Linked DNA regions of Homo sapiens. The protein of the gene in region 1 purifies or fractionates together with the protein of each later gene. This does not show direct contact. Each region holds a gene or a part of one and is shown in the gene's direction. Other genes may lie near its edges. The genes, in order: TAS2R8 and FAM234A.

Region 1 (3,553 bases):
TCATTAATATCTGTCATGATTCTGAAGATTTGTTTTGTGTTCCTTCACACTTTTGTCTTGTTTAATGGATAATCTAATGTTATCATTGCACCGTATATTCTTTGTCGTTGCAGAAAAAAAAAATGCATCTAAATCCCACACTAACATTTCATCATTTTATGTCATTGACTAAATACAAAGAGGTTCTACTTCTTTTCTGACAAATACTGGCAAAGGCCTTGAACTCAATGAGTAGAAGAATGTCAGGCAAACAGGCTTTGGGGAAAAGATTTTAGAACTCATCAACCCTTGCTATAAAATCAATCATGCAAAACAACTCTCTACTTTGAAATGAAGGCCGGTCCTTATCTTCACCGCCCTTTCCTCTCCATTTCTGGAAGGGTTTGTCTTGATCAAGAAGGGAGAAAAACAATCTTTAATGAGATTCTATCTAAGATGATATATGATGTGGGAAAAGGAGTATAATCTCAAGAATGAAAGTTTGACAGAGAGAGGAGGCACAGTTATGTATAGCAGAACCACCTTGAGAAAGAAGGTTGAGGGTCCCAGTAGTCAGCGTGTTCATGAGTACTCTAGCTGGTGATGGCAATTTTAGAAGTCATTTCCCAAAGATTCCCTGGAATGTTCTCTCTAGCCTTCTAACTCAGAAATCTCTGACATATTTTTTTCCCTCTGCATCATTTTCTTTTCTATTTTGTTTCCAGCAGTAGTTTATAGATAACTAGGTTTCTTTAAGTTATTAAGTTTATGCTTTCCTGTTACACATTACACACATGTAAGAAATAGAAAAAATCCTGCATGTGTTGTATACATTGTAGAACTATTTAAATACAAGAAGCCCTAGGGTATTGTGATTTGTATTACCTACATTCAAATGTATTTTGGGCTAAGTTGTACTTTCCCTTACCCCAAAACAAATAAATCTAATTTAATAGTAGAATTAGTCCTATTCCTTGGAAATACTGGTATGTAAAAAAAAAAAATTATTATTATTATTTTGAGACAGAGTCTCACTGTATCGCCCAGGTTGGAGTGCAGTGGCACGATCTTGGCTCACTGCAACCTCTGCCTCCCGGTTCAAATGATCCCCCTGCCTCAGTCTCCCAAGTAGTTACTTTTTTATGTGTTTGCCCTATCTAGAAATATGACTATAATATGCACTGTGAGATTACAAATCTTATAAAAGGAGTTGATTGGAACTAGAATAATGTAAAATTTAAATTTTCTTAATTTTAGATTACAATGCTTATTATACAAGAGACAGTGATTCAGGAAATGAATTGTCTTCAAGGGTATTTGTCACATTAAAAAAAAACTAAAGATAACAAATCTTTACCTGGCATATTTCACTTCTGAGGAACAATTGAAAAGAAAGCAAATTCTTAGTAAATATTATCATGTGCCTGCCTAAAAAAAAGTCATTTCTAATTAGATTTGTATTATATCCTTCCCTAATTAGCCGTTTAAATGAAGACAAGAATTATTATCCTCTGACTAAATGTTAAATATCTACAATCTAATTGTACTAATTACTTCCAAAGTGAAAATTTCTTTGCATCTGGGAGAACTGATTTGTGGCTTATTTATAACTTACATGATGAAAATGAAGTTTTATTTACACAGTTGGGTTTTTATTAAACATTTATCTCTTTTTTTATGACTCCCTATTCAAAACTCAATTTGAAGATCCAAATATAGAGCTACAGCAAGAAGCCTGTTGCAAATTCATGATATAAAATCTCTTTGAATTTGCATGGGAGCAATTTCAGCCAAACATTTCAGGTATCACTCACTAAAGGATAATAATTATAATTTTTCCAGGCTATAAATAACTAGTCAAGCTGCTCATTAGTTGGTTTCATCTTCAGGAGTGTAGAGACAATCCTATTTCAGAGGAGAGCTGAACACTTCCGGAAGAATAACAACGTCGAAATAACAGCAGATGAAAACATTATTGCATGATTCGAAGAATTGATCTATCATGCTTTAACAGGTCACCTGTAAATTAGCTCATCTACAGTGATATTTGAAATCAGATTGTTCTCTCTACAAACATGTTCAGTCCTGCAGATAACATCTTTATAATCCTAATAACTGGAGAATTCATACTAGGAATATTGGGGAATGGATACATTGCACTAGTCAACTGGATTGACTGGATTAAGAAGAAAAAGATTTCCACAGTTGACTACATCCTTACCAATTTAGTTATCGCCAGAATTTGTTTGATCAGTGTAATGGTTGTAAATGGCATTGTAATAGTACTGAACCCAGATGTTTATACAAAAAATAAACAACAGATAGTCATTTTTACCTTCTGGACATTTGCCAACTACTTAAATATGTGGATTACCACCTGCCTTAATGTCTTCTATTTTCTGAAGATAGCCAGTTCCTCTCATCCACTTTTTCTCTGGCTGAAGTGGAAAATTGATATGGTGGTGCACTGGATCCTGCTGGGATGCTTTGCCATTTCCTTGTTGGTCAGCCTTATAGCAGCAATAGTACTGAGTTGTGATTATAGGTTTCATGCAATTGCCAAACATAAAAGAAACATTACTGAAATGTTCCATGTGAGTAAAATACCATACTTTGAACCCTTGACTCTCTTTAACCTGTTTGCAATTGTCCCATTTATTGTGTCACTGATATCATTTTTCCTTTTAGTAAGATCTTTATGGAGACATACCAAGCAAATAAAACTCTATGCTACCGGCAGTAGAGACCCCAGCACAGAAGTTCATGTGAGAGCCATTAAAACTATGACTTCATTTATCTTCTTTTTTTTCCTATACTATATTTCTTCTATTTTGATGACCTTTAGCTATCTTATGACAAAATACAAGTTAGCTGTGGAGTTTGGAGAGATTGCAGCAATTCTCTACCCCTTGGGTCACTCACTTATTTTAATTGTTTTAAATAATAAACTGAGGCAGACATTTGTCAGAATGCTGACATGTAGAAAAATTGCCTGCATGATATGAAATCTTAGCTGTATAAATGGAATTTAAAACCAAATCTTCTCTAACAAAAAATATAGTTTTCTTAATAGTCTATTCTCATTTTTCCCCAGTTATCTCATTTATTTTGGATGCATATCTTTAAATATTATTAGGACCTAGTAGCAAACTACTGAATACATCTTTTCTATCCCTTTACAACTCAGAAATGCTCATCTTTACACTCCCTTTCCTCGAAGAATTTCAGAGCTCATGCTTCTCTTCTTGTCTCCTCAACGCAAGTGTTAGGCCTGTATTGCCTAGTTAAAGTCTTTTTAGATTTTACTTTGGCTCATGGTAAAGTGGACCTGAGCTACAGTAACTGGTTTCTCATTTTTCTTTGTCATACATTTTTATTGCCGCTCCTTAATTGTGCTCCTTTCATGGCTCTGCTGAGTCACCCCCATTTGGCTTATTGATTAGGAACTCAGATGTTCTCTGGTCTGTCTTTGGTTTTCCCGAATGATGATTTCCATGGTCTCCTAGGTAATATTTTCTGGTTGACCTTATTCTGATGATTTCTATTGATTTTCCTTGGAATTAAATTTCCTCTC
Region 2 (3,817 bases), on another chromosome or scaffold:
GCATGACTGCCCTGCGGCTCCTCAGGTCCTGCTTCTGCTCTCGAGGTGCTGGAGTCAGGAAGCCCAGGGGCCTGGCTCCATGTGGCACTGCGTGCCCCTGGTCCGGGTTCACAGCGTGACCCTGGTGACCTCGGGCCCTTCTGTGTTTTGAATAGCAAGCTCCCTCTGCGGCTGCTCTGTGAAGGGTCTCTACGAGAAGGTGACCGGGAGCGGCGGCCCGTTCAAGAGTGACCCGCACTGGGAGAGCATGCTCAATGCCACCACCCGCAGGATGCTTTCCCACAGGTGGGTCCGGGCCGCAGCCTTTCTCCATGCAGAGCGCCCACCCCATGGCTCTGCTCGCCTGCCTCAGCGTTCGGACAATCTGTGTGGAGCCCAGAGCAGCCCCACCGGCAGGGAGGTGCTCGGGGTACCGCAAGGTCACCCTGGGCTCAGATGTGAGAAATGGTCAAATAAAAGTTGAGTAAAGAGAAGAAAGGTTCCCGACGCTGTGCCTGTCTGTCTCCACGGAAAGTGGGGGTCTTTCTTCTCTTTTCTGTTTTTTTTTTTTTTGGTTGTTTTTTTTTTTTAAGACGGAGTCTTGCCCTGTCCCCCAGGCTGGAGTGCAGTGGTGCGATCTCGGTTCACTGCAACCTCCGCCTCCCGGGTTCAAGTGATTCTCCTGCCCCAGCCTCCCGAGTAGCTGGGATTACAGGCGCGCACCTCCACGCCCAGCTAATTTTTGCATTTTTAGTAGAGACGGGGTTTCTCCATGTTGGTCAGACTGGTCTCGAACTTCTGACCTCGTGATCCGCCCGCCTCGGCCTCCCAAAGTGCTGGAATTACAGGCATGAGCCACCGCGCCCAGCTCTTCTCTTTTCAAGCTGTAGAACTGAGAAACGGGTTATGGGGGCCTAAGAGGAGCACCCTGAGACGGGCGGTGCCAGAGCCTCCACTGGGTGCCTGAGGCCGCCCCGGGGACCCGGCGCCCCTTTCTCCCACTCTCCTGTCTAGCTCTGGAGCAGTGCGCTACCTGATGCATGTCCCAGGGAACGCCGGTGCAGATGTGCTTCTTGTGGGCTCAGAGGCCTTCGTGCTGCTGGACGGGCAGGAGCTGACGCCTCGCTGGACACCCAAGGCAGCCCATGTCCTGAGGTACAGGGTTTCCCCAAGGACCGCGCAGGTGCTGCACCCCTTCCCGGCATCCCGGGCACATCCCGTTGGCTGGCGAGGAGACAGCGCTGGGGGTGGGGCCGGAGGCCGTGTGCTGCTGCCCGGGCTTCTTGCCTGTCTCTGGTACTTGCCCCTTGCCCCAGACGTCGGCTCCGTGTCCTGGGCCCTGGTCCAGATGTGGCCATGGGAGACTGAGGGGCGGACGTGTTCCTGGGTGCTTCCTTCATCTCAGTCTCCTCACTGAGACCCCTCGTGAGCGCTTCCTCCATATTGTTCCAGAAAACCCATCTTCGGCCGCTACAAACCAGACACCTTGGCTGTAGCCGTTGAAAACGGAACTGGCACCGACAGACAGGTTCGTTGTTCTTCCTTCGGAGGTGGCACCTTTGTTCTTAGCTGAGGATAGACTGGTCTGAAAGCAGACGGGGCTGCGGCCCAGGAGGCTGCTGCCGTCAGAGCTGCTGAGAAGGTTCTGCCTCCCTCAGAGCATCTGCCTCCAGGGCTGGCATGGCTGAGGGCACGTGTGCCTGTGCAAGCCTCGAGCTTTTCCCGGTAGCCCCCACGTTGGCCCCCACAGTGTCCCCTCCCTCCCCAGATCCTGTTTCTGGACCTTGGCACTGGAGCCGTCCTGTGTAGCCTAGCCCTCCCGAGCCTCCCTGGGGGTCCACTGTCCGCCAGCCTGCCGACCGCAGACCACCGCTCAGCCTTCTTCTTCTGGGGCCTCCACGAGCTGGGGAGCACCAGCGAGACGGTACGGGAGCCACCCTCGGAGCAGCCATGCTGGGAGCCGGGGCCAGAGACCCAGGCTGGAGCTCCACCGTGGAGTGCCCAGAAGCTCATCGGTGCCTGGGCAACCTCACATAAGTTGAAGTCCAGTGACAGTCAGGATGAGGTGGTGCAAGCTGAGGCAAAGTGACCTTAGAGGGGTCCAGCGAGAAGGGGCTGATGGCCTTCGGTGGATAGGGGCGCACACAGCCATGCCCTGAAGGGAGTGGCTGCCGGCAAGGACCAGTGTCAGGACCAGGTGGGGTGGGAGGACCTGGGAGGTGGCCACAGAACTGGGGGCTGGCATTTGGGGGACCCAGATAGGGCCCCTAGCAGACATAGAGCTCCAGGCACGGTCACTCTGACAGCAGTGTCCTGTGGGAGTGCTCAGTGAAGGGCGTGGGGCCCATTGCTGGTTCTCGCTCCAGGAGACCGGGGAGGCCCGGCACAGCCTGTACATGTTCCACCCCACCCTGCCGCGCGTGCTGCTGGAGCTGGCCAATGTCTCTACCCACATTGTCGCCTTTGACGGTGAGTGTGGCCTCGGCCAGGGACCCGGGTGTTCCGCGGGGTCTGCCCTGGCTGGTCCTGAGCCGCCCTGACAGCTGTGTCCCCCACCCTGCAGCCGTCCTGTTTGAGCCAAGCCGCCACGCCGCCTACATCCTTCTGACAGGCCCGGCAGACTCAGAGGCACCCGGCCTGGTCTCTGTGATCAAGCACAAGGTGCGGGACCTTGTCCCAAGCAGCAGGGTGGTCCGCCTGGGTGAGGGTGGGCCAGACAGTGACCAAGCCATCAGGGACCGGTTCTCCCGGCTGCGGTACCAGAGTGAGGCGTAGAGGCACGCCAGCCAGAGCCTGTGGAGAGACTCCGCCTGCTGACACTAAACGTCCTGGGAAGTGGGCCCTTCCCTGGGTCTCTGCACTGACTCCCCCACTCCTGACCCTGGTGATGGTCGCCACTGGGCAGCAGCAGCCTTACCAGTCCTCCATGATCACACCCAGGGACCTGCATGGGTGAGGGGACACCCTGGGCCTCTCTCCCGCCCAGCATCCTCCCTGAGTCCCCACACAGGGCCTCACTCTGCACCCCACCAGGGTCCCGCTCACACCAGGCAGCCTTCATAGTGGTCTCCCTGGCCACCTTGGGCAGAGCTGGGTCATGCAGCACCCCATCCTTACCCGGTGCCCTCTCCTTGCCAGCTTCTCCCCAGGCCAGAGCGGCCATCGCGTAGAAAGAACCAGGGTGTCCCCGGGACAGGCCGTCCCCCACCCCATCCTGTAGAAGTCCATTCCCCTTTTCCCTCCTGTGCTCTGTCCCCCAAGGAGTCATGGAACTCAGGGTACTGGGCCTCAACGGGAACCTGAGACAGCTCCAGCTTCGCAGCCCTTCCCGGAGCTACAGGGGGATCCTCTAGCATGGGGGGTGTGACTTGGTTCCTTTGACCAGGTCCTGTGAGGAAGCCTGGAGCAAGGGTCTCCCCCAGCAGGATGGGTGGGGCCTGCTCTGGAGCTGAGCCCGTGGCCGCTCACAGGTGTCCTTAGTGGTGTTGCAGCTGTCTACTGGCTGCATGTGCTGTGAATATCCCAAGGAACTGGCTGTGGAATGCGTGTTTGGGTCAGTCTGTGCCCTCTCAGTAGACACTGGAGCTGCTCTGTCCCTGAAGAGGCCCCGTGCCCCAGGCATGGCAAGCGCCTGCCTCTCCCCTTCCGGTGCTCACACGCCCACGCCGTGCCACCCGATGCAGGACTCACCTCTGTGCCTTGCTGCTCCTGAGGCCCAAGGGCAGCCATGGTGCTCTGTACTGCTCGGGCCGCCCAGGTCACAGAGCCTGAGCTTCGTAGCCAAAGCAGCCTGATGACCCACCCACCAAGGAAGAAAGCAGAATAAACATTTTTGCAC

Evidence for each region.
Region 2: the proteins of TAS2R8 (region 1) and FAM234A purify together in Homo sapiens (affinity purification with mass spectrometry; one large-scale study listed by BioGRID and IntAct). This does not show direct contact.

The regions. Positions count from the first base shown.
Region 1 is NC_000012.12:10,805,482-10,809,034, reverse strand, and holds TAS2R8 (taste receptor type 2 member 8), read left to right. Parts: upstream 1-1,748; 5' UTR 1,749-2,054; coding exon 2,055-2,984; downstream 2,985-3,553. UniProt on the Homo sapiens protein: Receptor that may play a role in the perception of bitterness and is gustducin-linked. May play a role in sensing the chemical composition of the gastrointestinal content.
Region 2 is NC_000016.10:262,269-266,085, forward strand, and holds part of FAM234A (protein FAM234A), read left to right. Parts: intron 1-155; coding exon 156-285; intron 286-993; coding exon 994-1,134; intron 1,135-1,431; coding exon 1,432-1,507; intron 1,508-1,747; coding exon 1,748-1,903; intron 1,904-2,345; coding exon 2,346-2,448; intron 2,449-2,542; coding exon 2,543-2,754; 3' UTR 2,755-3,817.